2 separate regions of the Homo sapiens genome follow, and region 2 is linked to region 1. A link means that fine-mapping ties the variant in region 1 to the expression of a gene that starts in the linked region. Tissue or cell type: lung. Region 1 holds a variant in brackets; the other region holds the start of a gene. All regions are shown on one strand. Distances are between the middles of the regions.

The links. PIP is the estimated chance that this variant, and not a neighbour inherited with it, causes the effect. A credible set is the group of variants that fine-mapping cannot tell apart.
Region 2: it holds the start of SLC25A24, and the variant in region 1 is the best candidate, but not a certain one, in a credible set for the expression of SLC25A24 in lung (TOPMed, PIP 0.65).

What each region holds. Positions count from the first base shown.
Region 1 is chr1:108,125,622-108,136,052 of GRCh38, reverse strand. SLC25A24 (solute carrier family 25 member 24) reads left to right here. Exons shown (of 10, transcript NM_013386.5): 10 at 1-2,010. Among named protein-coding and RNA genes, the nearest start is that of LINC02785, 66 kb to the right of the region's middle. RefSeq lists a silencer at 10,184-10,323. The variant G/A (reference allele first, on the strand shown) is at 2,255.
Region 2 is chr1:108,195,807-108,206,237 of GRCh38, reverse strand. SLC25A24 (solute carrier family 25 member 24) reads left to right here and starts at 5,895. Exons shown (of 10, transcript NM_013386.5): 1 at 5,895-6,282. The coding sequence starts at 6,100. RefSeq lists an enhancer at 5,677-5,971 and a silencer at 5,772-6,111.

The DNA of each region.
Region 1 (10,431 bases):
TTTTCCATTTTACCACTGTACCATTATTTGGTTCCTGGAGTTATACACTAATTTTCAGTATATTACTGTTAAATTACCAACACAAGGCAATTTATTTGAAAGATTCCGTTTATCCTGCCATTGCTTTGAAAAGCAGCAGGAAACGAAATCCTTTGACTTGTATCAGCTTCTGCAGAGCATCTTTGTTTTCCTTTGTCCTTTGTTTCCTACCTTTTGAATCAGATTCCGTTTTAGTCAGGAAGACTTCTTGGGACCATTCTTAGTAACCTGAAATTTCTTTTTTAATTGCATGAAGTGGATTGATCATGAGCAAATGATGTGCTTATTTCTCCCTCACTGTTGAATATCTTTGAACTTGCTGTTTTCAATATGGGCAGCACAAAGGTGAGAGATACATATTAATAGTAGTATGTATTACTCTTATACATTAGATACCTATATTTAAATGAAAGGCCCAATTTGTAAACATATACATTCATATTCTCTCTTGCCCCAAGTTTTAGGAACATGTTAGGATATAGGAGACTTAATTTATAATAATGAGAGCATTTTTTTATTTTACTAAAGCCATTTTTATAGTCAACTATCTTTTCTTATTTGTGTGATTAGAACTTAGAAAAATATTTACTAGTTGAAGTTATTATCAGTTTTTAATTTAGTTCTTAAACTCATTTCACTTCTAATAATTTCTGTTATAAATTTCCAGCATTTTAATGAAAATCTAATGATGTAATAGGCATTTTCTTTATTTGAACCTACCTCTTTTATTTTCTGAACCAAAGAGAAAGATGGACTGGTGTTTGTGAAACATTTTTAAAAATGTAGTTTCATTTATATTAGTTATGTTTGATAAATGTCTCAGTATTTTTATAATATGATAAGCCTGGGATTCTACTTTTAGGGTTATTTGTACTTTTGAGTAATATATAAAGTGACAATATTAAGGTACATGATCAGCTCTTTCTATTTTTACTCGTAAAAATTATGGAAATGAATAATTTTGCTAACAACTTTGAAATTTCAAACTTCTGGAAAATATGAAAATATTCATTGTTCATTATGAATTTAAATTGTAAGGTATGAATGTGATTTGTCTGTACATCTTGTATCTTTTCCAAAAAATGATTCTGTATCTTTTGGAAAAAAGCCGAGAGTTGAAGATAGTATATTTCTGGTAGTACTGAATATTTACTTACAGTTTCTATCAAAAATATATATTTGTTTCTAAAATTACTTGTTTTCCAGTTTTTATTTTTTTTAGAGAAAATTCTTAAGTCTCAGTTTCCTAATTGAAAAAAAAAAATTATAAATAAAGCAAAAATTGTATCCTACAGCTTAGCTAGCTTAGATGTTTGGCACCAGTTTGAATCATGCTTTTTACAGCTGGCTCCATGTAGTCTTTCCAAACATTTTGGCCTTTCCTGAGCAGCCCTTGTAGATATTGTCTGTATGATGCATTTTGACACAAGGTGATATTTTTTGTGATATCAAAATTCCACATTTACCCATTAGAGTTACAGCCCTGGGGTTCACAGTACCAAGGGGGACCCAGAGCCTCAGGATTGGCCAGGCTCATTTTGCCGTGGAGTATCAGTTTGTCTTGAAATTGTGGGAAAAAATTCTAAGTTGAATTCACTGGTAAGTAATTTTTTAAAATTTCATAATGCAGATTACATCCAAAATTTGATTTAAAAATTAAAACATAAGACTGCAGAGAAATTCTGCATTTCAACTCCAATACTATCCAGACTTCAGAAATAACTTATCAGTTATTTCTGTAAGCTTCTTGCTTACCTGGATACCTGACAGGTGAGATGGCTGTAGCAGACACTGGCAGTTCCCTGCCCACACACCTGTCCCTGTCCACAGCTGCACAAGGCAGCTCTGTGTGCAATTGCCAGCATCTGCTCCTCTGTTCTCAGGGAATCTTTGTTAGAAAAATGCTGCCATATTTGTTTCTCACCTATTAGTCTTGTCTCCCAGTCAAGAGAATAAATTTATGCAAGCAGAGATTGTACTTTACAGTATTTTGTCTTTGAGCTTGGCATTATGTTGCATTTGTAAAAATGTGGCATGGCTTCCTCATCCCCCAATAGGAACTTTGCCAGCCCTTTTGTTCTCATGGAACTTCCTTTTTTGAAAAGAGCACCAAAGGAGTAAAAATACTGTGGAGGGAGCAACCCTCCTTTGCCATATGCTCTCATTGGGAGACATGTGGAGCAGTCTGAAGTCATTTAGGCCACTCTCTGGGAGA[G/A]CACATCCTATGATGTTCTCCCAGCCTAGCCCCTTCCACTGTGCTCAAGTCCAAGCTGACCAGCTTTCTGACCACAGTGTAAACAAAGATGATTGTCAGTGGGCCCCAGAATCCTATACCCAGACACTAAGCCACAGCCACTAACCCCAGGCCACTTCAGCATTTATTCCACCAGCATTCACTCACTCATTTGTTCTTGCAGTGTGCATTTAGTAGGCACCTGTTATGGCTTGGCTTTATCCCCATCCAAATCCCATCTTGAATTGTAACTCCCACAATTCCCACATGTCATGGAAGGAACTGGTGGGAGGTGAATGAATTATGGGGGTGGGTCTTTCCTGCACTCTTCTCATGATAGTGAATGAGTCTCATGAGATCTGATGGTTTTAAAAACAGGAGTTTCCCTGCACAAACTCTCTCTCTCTTTGCCTGCTGCCATCCATGTAAGATGTGACTTGCTCCTCCTTGCCTTCTGCCATGATTATGAGGCTTCTTTTGTAAATTGTGCAGTCTTGGATATGTCTTTATCAGCAATGTGAAAATGGACTAATACAGTAAATTGGTACCCGTAAAGTGGGGCGTTGCTGAAAAGATACCTGAAAATGTGGAAGTGACTTTGGAACTGGGTAACAGGCAGAGATTGGAACAGATTGGAGGGCTCAGAAGAAGGCAAGAAAACGTGAGAAAGTTCTGAACTTCCTAGAGAGTTGTTGAATGGCTTAGCCCAAAATGCTGATAGCAATGTGGACAATAAAATCCAGGCTGAGGTGATTTAGGATGGAGATGAGGACCTTGTTAGGAATGGAGCAAAGTTGACTCTTGTTATGTTTTAGCAAAGAGACTGGGGGCGTTTTGCCCCTGCCCTAGAGATTTGTGGATCTTTGAACTTGAGAGAGATAATTTAGGGTATCTGGCAAAAGAAATTTCTAAGCAGCAAAGCCTTCAAGAGGTGACTTGGGTACTGTTAAAGGCATTCAGTTTTATAAGGGAAGCACAGCATAAAAGTTTGGAAAATTTGCAGCCTGACTATGCAACAGAAAGGAAAAATCCATTTTCTGGGGAGAAATTCAACCTGGCTGTAGAAATTTGCTTAAGTAGCAAGGAGCTGTTAATGTTAATCCCCAAGACCGTGGAGAAAATGTCTCCAGGCCATGTCAGAGACTTTATGGCAGCCCCTCCCATCACAGGCCCAGAGGCCCAGGAGGAAAAAGTGGTTTTGTGGGCCAGGCCCAGGGTCCCCATGCTGTGTGCAGCCTAGGGACTTGGTGCCCTGTGTCCCAGCCGTGGCTGAAAAGAGTCAATGTACAGCTCAGGCTGTGGCTTCAGAGGGTGGAATCCCAAGCCTTGGCAGCTTCCATGTGGTGTTGAGCCTGTGGGTGTAAAGAGGTCAAGCACTGAGGTTTGGGAACCTTCACCTAGATTTCAGAAGATGTATGGAAACGCCTGGATGCCCAGGCAACAGTTTGCTGCAGGGGCTGGGCCCTCATGGAGAACCTCTGCTAGGGCAGTGCAGAAGGGAAACGTGGGGTTGGAGCCCCTATACAGTGTCCCTACTAGGACACTGCGCAGTGGAGCTGTGAGAAGAGGGCCACCATCCTCCAGACCCCAGAATGGTAGATCCACAGACGGCTTGTACTGTGTGCCTGGAAAAGCTGCAGACACTCAACACGAGCCCATGAAAGCAGCCGGAAGAAAAGCTGTACCCTGCAAAGCCACAGGGGCAGAGCTGCCCAAGATCAAGGGAACCCACCTCTTGCATCAGCATGACCTGGATGTGAGACCTGGAGTCAAAGGAAATCATTTTGGAACTGTAAAATTTGACTGCCCTGCTGGATTTCGGACTTGCATGGGCCCTGTAACCCCTTTGTTTTGGCCAATTTCTCCCACTGGGAATGGCTGTATTTACCCAATAACTGTATCCCCACTGTATCTAGGAAGTAACTGCTTGCTTTTGATTTTACAGGCTCATAGGTGGAAGGGACTTCCTTTGTCTCAGATGAGACTTTGGACTGTGGACTTTTGGGGTTAATGATGAAATGAGTTAAGACTTTGGGGAACTGGTGGAGGCATGATTGGTTTTGAAATGTGAGGACATGAGATTTGGAGGGCCAGGGGTGGAATGATATGGTTTGGCTGTGTCCCCACCAAAATCTCAACTGGAATTATATCTCCCAGAATTCCCACATGTTGTGGGAGGTACCCAGGGGGAGATAATTGAATCATGGAGGCAGGTCTTTCCCATGCTTTTCTTGTGATAGTGAATAAGTCTCACAAGATCTGATGGGTTTATCAGGGGTTTCCACTTTTGATTCTTCCTCATTTTATCTTGCCGCTGCCATGTAAGAAGTGCCTTTTGCCTCCCTCCATGATTTTGAGGCCTCCCCTGCCATGTGGAACTGTAAGTCCATTGAAACCTCTTTTTCTTCCCAGTCTCAGGTATGTCTTTATCAGCAGTGTGAAAATGGACTAATACAGCAGCCAATGTGGGCTGAGGTCACAACATTGAACAAAAGACTCAGTACTTCTTGTCTAGTGGGGAGAGACAGATGATAAACTATTAAGTAAAACATGTAGTGTGTCAGATGGTGCTAAGTGCAGAAGGGAGAGCTGGGGCTGTGGCCAGGGCTGCAGTTGTACAGAGATTGATAGAGAAGGCCTTATTGAGGAGGTGCTGTTTGAAGGTGGTGCAGGAATGCTCTATACTGAGTCTGGAAAGAGCATCCAGGCAGCAGAGGGAAGCAGATGCAGTGGCCACAGGAGGGAGGAACCTGCAGGAGGCCCGTGTGGCTGCAGGAGAGGAAGCCCAGGGAGGCAGCAATCCAGGAAGCAGAGGGGACTCTGAGGGAGCCACATCATCATTCATTTCTCCATTTCTTGCTTTCTAGTTCTGCAATAGCAGCAGTTTCTTGGGGGTATTCCCTAAATAAGATTCAAATGTCTCTCCTCGGGGGGTGGGGGACACTTGGGGTAGTATCACTGGAAATGATGGAAAATACCTCAGTTTCTGGGAACTGTTATGTCCATCACAGACAGAATAGCTTACTGCTACCTGGACACGTGGGCCCATTCTCCAGGTAGCATGTCTATTGGCTTCTCTGTGCCTCTCCTCCTCCAGGGAGAATTGTAATTTTTAAAAAGAGAATTAACTTAGAAACCTTAAAATCTTTCTAGATATTTTCTGAGAATTACAGAGGATTTTAATCTTAGCAAACTAACAAGGCTCCCACTGTCCTCACTTCCTTCTCTGATCACTTTGTATCTGCCCAGGGTTGGTTGGTTTGTTTATTTGTTTTTAATTTACACAAGTTTGACAATGTTGGAAACAATCCTTTTATTTGATTTTTTGTTTTGTGTTCATTGATAATGTCCTGTTTTAAATTCACTTCCACAAAGTCAAGATAACCATAACAAACAAGTGATTTGTATTTTGTTACTCCAGAAAGAGAGGCTGGTTTGTCCAGGGATTTTAAAGCTTTCTAAAGTACGCTTCGAACCTAAGCTTATTATAGACTCCCAGTTTTCCCTAGTCAGCATGAGTTTACACTCATCTGATTACACCGATTCTACCACACAATCTCAGCCACGGGCTCAGGATGAAGTGGCCTGAATCCCAGCACCTGTAATCAGTGCCTTCTGTAGCTATGTGTCACCCAGCCAGTCTTTGCTGTACTGCAGGGGGTCCCCACATCAATCTTACTGCAGCAAATGGGATGGTAAAAATGTGGTTTTTTCTTTTTTAATTTAAATCAACTTAAGTCCAGCTCCTTAACCACTCAGTGTTGTGCCAATGATCTAGGATGTTGGCCCCTTTGGACACTGGCCATGGTCTACACCACTCACAGCTGAGGCGCCCTTTGTTCTAGCCTGCATGGTCCCTTGGTTCCAGCAGTTGTGCCATGCTTGGGATGGGAGGAGTTGGGAAGACATGGAGTGTCTGTGTCTGGGGTCCGGCCTTTCCATTCTGAAATGGTGATGAGTAGAATGTGGATCTCCCTTAGCCTTGGGACCCACTAACCTTTGTCTTCTTCCAAACCTCCGACCCACCTCTTTTTCTCTTTGCTCTTAAAATTATCCCTCTCCTCTTCCCTCTGAGGCCCCTGTCATCCTCTCTGCAGGTAGCTTCAGTGTTTGCAAAAGACAGAAAAGACTTTGATTGAAAGTGACTTCTGATTTCTACTTTAAAAAATCACCAAGGGAAGGAAATGCTAAAGGCCTGACTCCTGCTCTGAAATGAGAAAAAAGGGAAAATATAGGGACATAAATACAAGTTAGTATTTTACTCAGTTATCTTGCTATAGCCTCTCAAATTGCCTCCTGTCTCCTGGTACTCTGTCTCAGGAGTAAGCCTTGTGCCTTACAGCAGTAGGCTCTGCACATAAAAGGAGATGGCTGTTTTGTTTGTTTTAACATAAACAGATTGTTATACCTATTGAATCTCCAAGTTCCCACAACTATATTGATATGTGGCAATGCAGTTTCACAACCAGACAGTTCAATAAACGGTGTCCAGGTTGAAGGGTCAACTATGTACTTAAAATTCAACCCTTTTCAATGGCCTGGGGAGGAGATGGGAAGGATGGGAGAGGGTACAATTACTTGGAATGCTGAAAAGAATGATAAGGTGAGACTCCCTCTCTGCAAGGAGTCTAGAGCTGTTTCTAAATCTGTTTTGGTTTTGGATGTGTTGGTGAATATGAGTGCAAGCTCTCAGAAGACATGGCTGATAAAGTTGCAAGTGTAGAATTAGAGGTGAAATTGATGAGTTGGGTGCTTGAGTTTCTAAGTAGAAGAATCTGGTGGAATTCTACCAGAAGATGAGGAACATGGTTTAAAGCTCATCCTTTAGTGATCTTTGTTTTTGTCCTGATTTTATTCCCTTCCTGCTTTACTCTTTGTAAAGATGTTCCCCCTTAAGATATAGGGAAATGTTCTATAAGGTAATAAAGCTATATTAAGGCGAACAAAAAGTAAATGAATGGAGACTTTTGCTGGAGTTTGAAAAGTTAGCTATTTTATATGTATGTTTTCTTTGTCTAGTAAAAATGTACGACTATTGTTTTATGGAATTCCAATCAGAGACTGTGGGAGACTTTCTTTACTTTGCTAAGCCTTAATAATTCACTTACTCTTTTTATAAGGCAGTGAGAAACATTCATTGGTCAAATGGTTTGTTCAACAATGTTCTTTCTATTTTATTCACATAGCATTAACTAATAATCTTTCTATTTTATTCATGGTACCATTGACATCATCAACACTTTATTGAGTGTAACTGGATTTATTATAATTAATCACAATAAACTGCACATGTTTAAATTATATAATTTCATAAGCTTTGACATATGTACATACCCATGAACAAAAGATGGTGAACATACCAGTTTCTGAGTACATCAAGAAACCACTGATTGCTTTCTTTCTTTTTTTTTTTTGAGACGGAATCTCGCCCTGTTGCCCAGGCTGGAGTGCAGTGGTGTGATCTCGGCTCACTGCAACCTCAGCCTCCTGGGTTCAAGTGATTCTTCTGTCTCAGCCTCCTGAGTAGCTGGGACTACAGGAGCGTGCCACCATGCCTGGCTAATTTTTGTATTTTTGGTAGAGACAGGGTTTCACCATATTGGCCAGGCTGCTCTCGAACTCCTGACCTCGTGATCTGTCCACCTCGGCCTCCCAAAGTGCTGGGATTACAGGCGTGAGCCACCGCACCCAGCCTGATTTCTTTCTTTCTATCACTGTAGATTCATTTGTATTTCATAGAATTTTATGTAAATGTCTAGCTTTTCACTCTGCAAAGTCAATCAGAGTTATCTGTGTTGTTGCATGTCTCAATAATTTATTCTTTGTTTTGCAGAGTAGTATTCCCTTGTAGGAACATTCCACAGTATGAGACAAGGCCCTGCAGAGAAACTCTACATAGAAAGGGTCTCCATGGGGCTGGGCACTGTGGCTCACACCTGTAATCCCAGCACTTTGGGAGGCTGAGGTGGGCGGATCACAAGGTCAGGAGATGGAGACCATCCTGGCCAACATGGTGAAACCCCATCTCTAATAAAAACACAAAAATTAGCTGGGTGTGGTGGCACATGCCTGGAATCCCAGCTACTTGGGAGGCTGAGGCACGAGAGTCGCTTGAACCCAGGAGGTGGAGGTTGCAGTGAGCTGAGATTGCGCCACTGCATGCCAGCCTGGGTGACAGAGTGAGACTCCACTTAAAAAAAATTAAAAAAAAAAAAATAATAATAATAAAAAAAGAAAGAGTCTCCATGGAACACTTGATCCCTAATTGGCAGAAGAGGTCAAGGAAAAACACTAATGTGAAACAAGGGCAAAAGGTGCAAGAAAATTAAAAGGCAGTTAATAACTTCAGGAAAAATTAAAAAGCTCTAATATAAACGAAATGTGGCTGGGTGTGGCGGCTCATGCCTATATAATCCCAGCACTTTGAGAAGCTGAAGTGGGCAGATCGCTTGAGGCTAGGAGTTTGAGACCAGCCTTGGTAACGTAGCAAAACCCCATCTGTACGAAAAATATAAAAATTAGCTGGGCATGGTGGCCTGTGCTTGTAGTCCCAGCTATTGAGGGGAGAGCAGCTAAGGTGGGAGGATTGCTTGAGCCTGGGAGGTCAGGCTGCAGTGAGCTGTGATTGTGCCACTGCACTCCAGCCTGGGCAACAGAGCGAGACCCTGTCTCAAAAAAAAAAAAAAAGAAATGTAATTATAGTGAACACTAGCTCGGCAGTGAAAAATACTGCAAAGTCACATCATCAATGTGCTTTCAAAATCAAACTGTAGGCCTAAATATAGCTATAGAAGAATGTAAACAAGGAAGCAAATGTAATCAGAAGCTGAGCAGTAGGAGAGAGGAGGTGGGGTGAAAAGGGAAGGATGAGGAAGGTGGGGGTGTGCAAGGCTCTTGCTTACCTGGGTACCCGACAGGTGAGATGGCTGTAGCAGACACTGGCAGTTCCCTGCCCACACACCTGGCCCTGACCACGGCTGCACAAGGCAGCTCTGTGTGCAATTGCCAGCATCTGCTTTGGTGTTGCTCTTGGTGCTGGAGCTTACTTGCTGCCCATGTGACAGGAGCAGCTCTAAACCAGTGGTCGTGAGCTCTGTTTCGCACTGGCTCCCATTTCTACACTGGGTCTGGTGCAGGTGCCTATGGTGGCAGCTGGTGTGATGATTTGCCCTTTACTGATGGCCTTCTCCTCATCTTACTTTCCCATCCTGTCCTTGAATCATCCATTTCAGGATCTGCCTCTGAAAGAACCCAAACTAAGGCAGTCAATCCACCACAGACAGACAAGGAAATAGAAGCAGAGCGTTTTATTTAGAGATTATGGAGGAAAATACGAAAAGAAGCAACTAACAGAACTGCAGGTCATTACCTCTAGGGACCAAGACTAGAGGTGGGAAGGGGCGGAAGAGGAGACCATGCTTTTAAATATATGCATGGCATGTGCTACTTTAATATAATTAAAAACAATCACTTAAAGCAAATTGGAACAGTGTAACAAATGAAATCAAATGAAATCAAAAGGAGAGAGCACAAATATATCTGAGTAACTTGGTCTGTCCCCCAGCCCCCTTAATGTTGTTACCTGAATATGTCAATTGTTGTCAAAAGACAAGCATAAACTGAAATCGATTATTGTATGGATCTGAACCGATGGAAAATATTCTCTGTACAGCAATTTTAAAAGTATAATGGTAATCACTGTGTTAGGGATTAAGTATACTTCCCACCCTGTGTTTTTGCCATTGTATAGGAAAAATCATGCAGAATACATTGATAATCACTGTAGAAATGAGATGAGATTTATTAACTAAAACACTTAGCACTTCACCTGGCACTACTTTATGAAGAAGCACTTTGTATAGGGCACTATGTGTAGTTTATATATATAAAGAAACATTTGTGTATTGGGTTTGAATGTTACTTGTTGTTGTTGAATATTCTTCTGCTAGTCCACCCTGTCCCTGATGGAAGCTATGCCCCCGGATCAGAAACGCTTGATGCTCAAGCGGTCCTGGGAAACCACTATTGCAAGTAACTGTCAGTGCCCTCTACTTTCCACTAGATGGCAGACTTCCCCCAGCTCTGTGGACGGCAGATACCCAGGAGAGGAGGACAGAGCTTCAGATCTTTGCTTTCTCCCTTTCCCTTGACCTGGAAAA
Region 2 (10,431 bases), 70 kb before region 1:
TTAAGAGAATACTATAAACACCTCTATGCAAATAAACTAGAAAATCTAGAAGAAATGGGTAAATTCCTGGACACATACTCTCTCCCAAGACTAAGCCAGGAAGAAGTCGATTCCCTGAATACTACCAATAACAAGTTCTGAAATTGAGGCAATAATTAATAGCCTACAAACTAAAAAAAAAAAATAGCACAGAACCAGATGGATTCACAGCCAAACTCTACCAGAGGTAGAAGGAGGAACTGGTACCATTCCTTCAGAAACTATTCCAAACAATGGAAAAAAAGAGACTCTTCTCTAACTCATTTTATGAGGCCAGCATCATACTGATACCAAAACCTGGCAGAGACACAACACAGAAAGAAAATTTCAGGTCAATATCCCTGATGAACTTCGATGAAAAAATCCTCAATAAAATATTGGCAAACTGAATCCAGCAGCAAATCAAAAAGCTTATCCACCATGATCAAGTTGGCTTCATCCCTGGGATGCAAGGCTGGTTCCACATACAGAAATCAATAAACGTAATTCATCACATAAACAGAACCAATGACAAAAGCCACATGATTATTTCAATAGATGCAGAAAAGGCCTTTGATAAAATTCAACAGCCGATTCATGCTAAAAACTCTCAATAAACTAGGTACTGATGAAACGTATCTCAAAATAATAAGAGCTATTTATGAGAAACCCACAGCCAATATCATACTGAATGGGCAAAAGCTGAAAGCATTCCCTTTGACAACTGGCACAAGACAAGGATGCCCTTTCTCACCACTCCTATTCAACATAGTATTGGAAGTTCTGGCCAGGGCAATCAGGCAAAAGAAAGAAATAAAGGATATTCAAATAGGAAGAGGGGAAGTCAAATTATCTCTGTTTGCAGATGACATGATTGTATATTTAGAAAACCCCATTGTCTCAGCCCAAAAACTCCTTAAGCTGATAAGCAACTTCAAGCAAAGTCTCAGGGTACAAAATCAATGTGCAAAAATCACTAGCATTTCTATACACCAATAAGAAACAGAGAGACAAATCATGAGTGAACTCCCATTCACAACTGCTACCAACAGAATAAAAAACCTAGGAATACAACTTACAAGGGATGTGAAAGATATCTTCAAGGAGAATTACACCAATGCCAAGGAAATAAGAGACAACACAAACAAATGGAAAAACATTCCATGCTCATGGATAGGAAGAATCAATATCATGAAAATGGCCATACTGCCCAAAGTAATTTATAGATTCAATGCTAATCCCATCAAGCTACCATTGACTTTCTTCACAGAATTAGAAAAAACTATTTTAAATTTGATATGGAACCAAAAAAGAGCCCGTATAGCCAAGAAAATCTTAAGTAAAAAGAGAAAAGCTGGAGGCATCACTTTACCTGACTTTTAACTACACTACAAGGCTACAGTAACCAAAACAGCATGGCACTGGTACCAAAACAGAGATATAGACCAATGGAACAGAACAGAGTCCACAGAAATAATGCCACACATCTACAACCATCTGAGCTTTGACAAGCCTGATAAAAACAAGCAATGGGGAAAGGATTCCCCATTTAATAGATGGTGTTGGGAAAACTGGCTAGCCATATGCAGAAAACTGAAACAGGACCCCTTCCTTACACCTTATACAAAAATTAATTCAAGATGGATTAAAGACTTAAACATAAGACCTAAAACCATAAAAACCCTAGAAGAAAACCTAGGCAATACCATTCAGGACATAGGCATGGGCAAAGGCTTCATGACTAAAACACCAAAAGCAATTGTGACACAAGCCAAAATTGACAAATGGGATCTAATTAAACTAAAGAGCTTCTGCACAGAAAAAGAAACTATCATCAGAGTGACCAGGCAACATACAGAATGGGAGAAAATTTTTACAATCTATCCATCTGACAAAGGGCTAATATCCAGAATCTACAAGGAACTTAAACAAATCTACAAGAAAAAAACAAACAACCCCATCAAAAACTGGGCAAAGGATATGAATAGATACTTCTCAAAAGAAGACATTTATGCAACCAAGAAACATACGAAGAAAATCTCATCATCACTGTTCATTAGAGAAATGCAAATCAAAACCACAATGAGATACCATCTCACACCACTCAGATTGGTGAACATTAAAAAGTCAGGAAACAACAGATGCTGGAGAGGATGTGGAGAAATAGGAACGCTTTTACACTGGTGGTGGGAATGTAAATTAGTTCAACCGTTGTGGAAGACAGTGTGGTGATTCCTCAAGGATCTAGAACCAGAAATACCATTTGACCCAGCAATCCCATTACTGGGTGTATATATCCAAAGGATTATAAATCATTCACATGCACGTTTATTGCACCACTATTCACAACAGCAAAGACTTGGACCCAACCCAAATGCCCATCAGTGATAGAATGGATAAAGAAAATGTGGCACATATATACCATGGAATAGTATGCAGCCATAAAAAAGGATGAGTTCATGTCCTTTGTAGTGACATGGATGATGCTGAAAGCCATCATTCTCAGCAAACTAACACAGGAACAGAAAACCAAACACCGCATGTTCTCAGTCATAAGTGGGAGTTGAACAATGAGAACACATGGACACAGGGAGGAGAACATCACATGCCGGGGCCTGTTGGGGGTGGGGAGGGGAGGGAGTGGGGAGGGGAGGGATAGCATTAGGAGACATACCTAATGTAGGTGATGGGTTGATGGGTGCAGCAAACCACCATGGCACATTTATACCTATGTAACAAACCTGCACATTCTGCACATGTATCCCAGAACTTAAAGTACAATGAAAAAAAATTATCCTTCCAGTAATGGTTATGGCTTTACACTGAACCAATCAAATTCTCTTACAGAGCCTAAGCTGTGATTACTCAAATTTGAGGGAGCAATGACCAGGATCTTTTTTTCCTTTCTGAATATTCTTGAAGGATTTTGAAATAGAATTGTTCCTTGTGGAGAGGCAGATTCTTTGGTCTTATTAGCACTACACAATAAGTAAGTGATTCAGTGGATAGAAAGAAGAAATGTGTTTATCAACTAAAACTAGCCAAATCCAGAATGATTATGAAAAGATTCCAAAGTAGGTGCTGAAAGAGGTCTTCAAGGACTGAAACTGGTCAAGTCTGAAGGTTATTCCAGTGGAAAATGGTAGTACATTAGAAGGCCAGAAGTTGGGGACAATAGAAGTAGCTAAATTGGGCTGAACCCTAGACTTCTGTTCTGACCAAGGAAATGAATTAAGGAAGTGTGAATTCTGGGTTTCTACTACTGCCCTCTAGGAACCACTGGTCTTTGGGAATTGCCAGTAGAATTAAGCAGGGGTGCCTTCTTTCGTCCAGATGTGTAAATGTCCATGTAAAGGTTTCTTCTCTTATGCAGGAAGTTGCTAGTGTTAATTACACCTTTTATCTTCATGGTGTTATCTCGATTCCTTGCAGACATAGTGTCGTAAAATACAGTAAAAATGCAATACTAGAAAATTGAAATTAAAAAGACAAGCTCTGAGTTTTATTATTAGATATAACAAAATTACTTTATCAAATTGCTATAAAGTTTCTAAATCCTTCCTCTCAATGTCTGACTCATTGCAGACAGGTAACAGGTTGCACTTCGAGTGGTTTGCTTCATACTAGCTGTGCTTTTCAAACTTTATGAAATGCTCATCCAGGGTTCTTGTATAAGTGCAATTCTTACTTAGTGGGCTTGGGCAGGCCTGAGATTATTTCTGACAAGCTCCCAAGTGACACTGATGCTGCTGGTCTGTGGCCCACACTTCATAAACGCTTTGATTTTCACAGTAACACTGATGTGACACCAATGCTGCTGGTGTGTGGCCCATACTTCATAACTATTCATAAACTGTTTTGATGTTCACACTGATCTTTTGAGAATTTTTATTCCATTTTACTCATGCTTAAGTCAGATTTATTGATATCCCAGAGTAAATTAACCCATGTTAGTGTGCAGTTCTGCTGGCACACACATGCAGTTGTGTAACCACTACCACCAAAAGCAAGATGTAAAATAGCTCCATCACCCCCACAAGCCTTCTGATGCTCTTTTGTCATCAATTCCCTTCCCGCTAGTCACAACTGGTAACTACTGATTTGTTTTCTGTCCCTATAGTTTTGCCTTTTCCAGAATGTCATTGTTGACAGGTATCAGTAATTCATTCCTTTTTATTGCTAATTACTATCTCACTGTATGAATGCAACACAGGTTGTTTACCAGTTCACCCGTTAAAGAACATTTTGTTTCTGCGCTTGACAGTTATGAATAGAACTGCTATAAACCCTCAAGTAAAAGTTTTGGTGTGAAGATAATTTTCTCAGCAAAAACGCTGACAGGTAATTTTTCTAAGTATTACTTTTTTAAAAAAGTAAAATAGCCTGTAGCCCCAGCTACTCAGGAGGCTGAGGCAGGAGAATAGCTTGAACCCAGGAGGCGGAGGTTGCAGTGAGTTGAGATTGTGCCACTGCATTCCAGCCTGGGCGACAGAGCTAGACTGTCTCAAAGAAAAAAAAAAAAAAAAAAGAAATAAATAAAAAGTAAAATGAAAGCATGTAAGTGTAAGATGACTAGTTCAAGCAACCTCTCTTCAAGTACAGAGTATTCAGAGTAGAGATTAAAAGAGGTTTTCAAGGACAGAGAAAATTTGAAGTTTGAAGGCAGTTCCAAAGGAAGGCAATGATTCTTAATAAGACTGGAAGTTGGAAGTAATATAAAAAGATAAATCAGTTTCAAGATGATTTTACTAAGCAGGCAGCCCTTAATTTACAAATTCTAGATTCATACATATCTTAAACATACAAAATGATATGAGGAGAGGTAAGTTCAGGGTCTGAGTTCCTGGCTGTTGTTGGAACTGATTTCTGTGTAGTGATTCAGAAGATGTGAGACACCCTAATTTACAAGTACAGAGGTATCTTCTTTTCTGCAAACAGCAGTACAACAATAGTTCCTCTTACGCAGCTGTGAATGAACAGGATTATTACAATTAATGATATCTCATTTGATTGGCGCCTTAGAGAATTAAGACCTTTCACACCTAATATACAACTTTGTTGTGAAGGCAGATATTTATATTCTCATTTTACTGATGAGAGACTACCCGGAGACGCTATGTCACACCTGAAGGATTAGGTACTTTCTCTGTTAAGTCCAATGTTCCTTCCGTTATTCCATGCTAGGCAGTAATAAGTTCTGTCTTGCCTGAGTAATAAGCTCCAAACCTCGGAACTGCACCCATCTTGAGAAGGAGGAGGGCGCTGTGGTTTTTTCTGATAAGTGCAGCTGGCAGACACTCTATACGCTTAATCACGGGCAAATCCTAGCTAAGCTGCCTACCAAACTAGTCCTTCTTTTCCCCGTTGCCCACGCAGATGGCTGTTGATCTTTTCTGCAACAAATCCAGGAGTTTCTCCTTTTTGTTTTATAATTGCTCCAATAGATGCTTTAGGATTTAACTCTCTGCTTTTTAAAGCAGAATCGCCATCCCAGGTGTGCAACCACGAAAAAATTAGACATCCGTGAGAGACAATGCCCTCCATGGCCCAGTTTCCAGGCAGAGAGAAGCAGCTCTGGGCTGACCGCCAAGGCTCCGGCCCGAGAGGGTCTTTAAGTGGAGTAACCAGTCTTCAAGACCCCGCTCCCAAGCCACCGACGCGCTGACGCTGCAGCCCTGGACCTGCTGGGGGCCTCTTCCTCGGACCCGCATGCTGACAGCGGGACTGGCAACTGGGCAGAGGTCGACCCCGGGTCCGCACAGCACCTCCCGAGACCCAGCTCCCAGCTCCCTCACTTCCGGCTCTCTGGAGGCGGGCCCGGCCAGTGCCGCCGAGGCCAGCGCGGCGAGCTCCTCCCCAGCAGCGGCGGGACGGCCACACCCTGCGCTCCGCGCGGGCTCGGGTGGGGTCTCCGCTCCTGCGCCCTGCGCCCTGCGCGCCGCAGCCGCAACCCCGACGGCGCCCCAAACGCTGTTGCGCCGCGCGCCCCGCCCAGCCCGGCCTCGCGCTGGTCCCGGTCTCGCCCCGCAGCCCTCGATCTCCCGTGACTTCCTCGGCCAGGCCGCCTGCGCCTCTGGGACCATGTTGCGCTGGCTGCGGGACTTCGTGCTGCCCACCGCGGCCTGCCAGGACGCGGAGCAGCCGACGCGCTACGAGACCCTCTTCCAGGCACTGGACCGCAATGGGGACGGAGTGGTGGACATCGGCGAGCTGCAGGAGGGGCTCAGGAACCTGGGCATCCCTCTGGGCCAGGACGCCGAGGAGGTGGGTCGCCGCCGGGGCGCCGCCTGAGCGTAGGGAGGGCTGCGGGCGCTGGGGACACTGCGAGGACCGAGGAGGGCGGCGGCTTGAGGCGTTGCCAGGAGAGGAAGGAGGAACTGTGGCGCCCAGCGCTCCGGTGGCTTCAGAAACTCGGGCGTGGGGCCGCGACCGGCGACCCCGGTAACAGAAGTGGGTCATAATACGAAAGTCTACTGGTATTTGTCCAGATAAAATGAGTGTTGTGGACACTCTGGCCCACGGGCACTGTTAAATTTTTAAGACACTTTTGTCCTGAATCCATCCCAGGTTCTTTGTTTTCTGTTTTAATACCTTGCAGACATGTAATCCGTTTTAGCTGTCAGACTTCAGTGGGTCCCAAGTTTTGTATAAAGGCGCACACATTCGATCTCTTTCGAAGCTGCTTTGTTACAGCAGCTATGTGTATTGTCTACTGTTTGAAAACTGTTTGAAAACCAATCGCGTGTTTCCCCCACTTCCTGTTGAGAAGGAATGGCGGCATTCCATTGTTTAAGACATTCCTAGGTTAATGCCCTAGGTACATAAATTGATCTGAAGGGTTGACTTGACCTGCGACTGAGCAATTTCATTTTCTCTGAGTCATCTTAACTGTGCCCCTGAACTTCTGCCCCTTTAGTAGGGTGGAGATATGTGGAACTTCTCCAACCCTGTTGAAGCGTTCCCTGACACTGGCATTCTCTTATCCAAAGAGGGAAAGTGATTAGGTTACTATGAGGGCCAACAACTGTTATATAGTTATATTTCACTTCTCTTTTAATGTCTTTGGTAGTTATAGGCCTCTTCAGTTTACTGTTTCTTCTAGAGTCAGATTTAGTAAGTTACAATTTTTTTTGAAACTGCCTGTTCTGTCCAAGGTTCATAATACTCACCGATGATTTTATAACACTTCTGACTGAATCTGTAGGTAGGTTCTCTATTTCATTCCTCATATCTATCCTTTTCTCCCCTTCAATCTTGCCAAAGTTTTGTGTATTTTATTCATACTTTGAAGGAACCAACTTTTGGTACTTTGTGCTGATTGTCCCAGAAATGGCCCAGTTGGAGTTCCCCACCATGTCCAATCATTGGCTGGAAGCAGCCCAGGAAAGGGACGACCTTGCTGCAGTGCATCAGCAGATGCCAGGGTTAGAGGCTAGAGAGTGGAAGTCAACTGTGTTCCTCACAGTAGGTGCCTTTGAAGGGAGATCTCAGTGGTACAACTCCATGGTCCCTACAATATACAAAAGCTCTTTGGAGTGCTCAATGATTTTTAAGATTGTAAAGGGATCCTGAGATCAAAAAGCTTGAGAATTGCTGCTGTATCACCATTTTTACGTAACTGCATCATATTCTGTTATATGTTTGTGTCATAGTATATGTTACCAATTCTTTTTAAATCACCTTTTACTTTATTGATAGTTTAAAAACGATTGTAAGTGAAATTGCAATGGATGTCCTTTGTATTCATTTTCTCATTCTGGTCCAGTTACTTTCGTAAGATAAATTTTGAGGAGTGGACATTGCTGAGTCTGAAGGTAACACACATTTTAAACTGGGATACGTATTGCCTTTCGGAAACCTTAGACCCATTTTCACTCTTTTGACTGACAGTGCTTGCTTCTCCACATCCTCGCTCATTCAGGGTATCAGTCTTTGTAAAGTCTCCTATTCTGCAGGTGAAATTCCTTTTCATTTCCTGTCTTAGTCCATTTAGTGTTGCTATAGTGGAATATCTGAGACAGGGTAATTTATAAAGAAAAGACATTTATTTAGCTCACAGTTCCGCAGGCTGGGAAGTTTAAGAAGCGTGGTGCTGGCATCTGCTGGACTCCTGGGGAGGGCTTTCCTGCTGTGTCACAACATGGTGGAAAGTCAAAGTGGAAGTGGACATGTGTGAAGAAGCAAAATCCGAGGGGTGTCCTGGCTTTATAGCAACCCAGCCTCGAGGGAACTGATCCATTACTGAGGGAACTAATTCAGTCTCATGAGAGAGAGAACTCACTCACTACTGCAAGAATGACACCAAGCCATTCATGAGGGATCTGCCTCCGTAACCCTGACACCTCCTGCTAGGTCCCTCCTCCCAACACGGCCACATCAGGGATCAGACTTCAACATGAGTTTTTGTGGGGACAAACAAAACGTAGCACTTGCTTTGCCTTTTGGTTCTATTCACATCCTCCACAGGATTGCATTATGCCTACCCATTTGGTGAGGGCAGTCTTCTTTAATTGGTTTACTGATTCAAATGCTACCCTCCTCCAGAGACATCCTCACAGACACACCCAGAAATCATGTTTTACCAGTTATCTGGGCATCCCTTAGTCCAGACGAGTTGATACATAAAATTAACCATCACACATGGGATAGAATTAGGATTACACAGTCAACCTTTATGGGAGAAAATTTCAGAGGCATGTCAGGGGTTTATGTAATGTCAAGGAGTGAGGACATTGGCTACTTGAGCATAGAAATGAGAACTGTGGGGTGACTCTTCGGTGGAAAGTTTCAAGGTAGTAGTTTGTATCTAAGCCAAATACTCAGCTTGAAGCAAAATCTCTATAAATTTTCATCTGATTTGATCTCATCTCCGTGTTTCCAAGCATTTGTAATGAATTGAGCATTTAGAAGAGAACAAATTTCTGTTTAAGTTTCTTTAGATTTTAGATGGAAAGAATGTAGAAATAAGAGTAGAATGTAGAAATAGGTATAAGGAATATAATAGCTAACCATTACTAAGTGTTCCAGAATTATCCAGGGAAGAGAAAAGAATTCAAGGCAAGTCCTGAGACAAAATTAAGAACCAATTGGAAGTGAAAGCGCTACATTTTTTTTTCTGGTATGACCTTTCTTTTCTGTATGTTCCAAATCTCCTCACTATGAAATTAGTGAAAAATTAAAGTTAAAAATTAGAGAAAATTCACATTAAGTTCTCCTAGGACTCAGTAGTATAAGGGTATAGACTGAGAGTAGAATGTAGTGTGAGAACAAGGAGATACAGTATTTAACCATTACTAATTCTCTTATACTTGTCTAGTAATCCTATTTCCTTTTAAAAGTCTTCAGTTATTTTCTCTTTACGCACCTCCTTCTCCCTCTTGTCTTCCTCCTTCTACCCCCATCTTCTTTCTTCCTGTGGAGCCTTCATGAATGGGATTAGTGCTTGTATAAAAGTGACCTGGAAGACCTTCCTTGCCCCTTCCACCATGTGAGGACACAGTGAGAAAACAGTGGTCCATGGAACCGGAAAGTGGGTCCTCACTAGACAGTAAATCTCCTAGCACTTCGATCTAGGACTTCCAGTGTCTGGAACTGCAAGAAATCAATGCTTATTTTTTAAGTAAGCCAATAGTATTTTTGTCATAGCAGCCCAGTTGGACTAGGACAATTATCAAGAGCAAGAAGGGAAGCAGCAAGCTACAAGAGAGTTCCGTCCTTGGTGTAAATTGACCGTGTAATCCTTGTCAAGTTTGAGCCTTACTGGAGCTTTACTTTCTTATTCTTAAAATGCAGATATCTTGCCTGCATCCTGGACAGAGCTTTTAACAAGGTCATATGTTGCAGAATATGAAAGTTCATGTTAAAAAACCCTTTAAAATGTGGTATCCCATTTACTAGCTGGTGAACTTCTTGAGGAACCTCTGTGCCCATGGGTATGAAGTGTATGCTGAATGATCACCCAATGTTAGAGGAGTGGGTGGACTGGTAACCTGATTTAAGGGCCATTCTAACTCTTACATTCTATGATTTTTTTAATTCTGTCTTTAAGTTTTTACATTTACAATCACAGAAAAAATAGTCACATAGAAGAATAGTAGCTTAGCAAATGTTTATTGCATTGAGTGGAATCAGGATTTCACTCCATTAAGTAATTCCTCTGTTAACAAAGAGGGTTCATTTCATTTTTATTTCATTAATATTGCTTTTTTTTTTTTTTTCTGGAGACAGAATCTTGCTCTATCACCAAGGCTGGAGTGCAGTGGTGCGATCTCGGCTCACTGCAGCCTCTGCTTCCTGGATTCAAGCGATTCTTGTGCCTCAGCCTCCCAAGCAGCTGAGATTACAGGCACATGCCACCACACCTGGTTAACTTTTGTATTTTCTAGTAGAGATGGGATTTTGCCATTTTGGTCA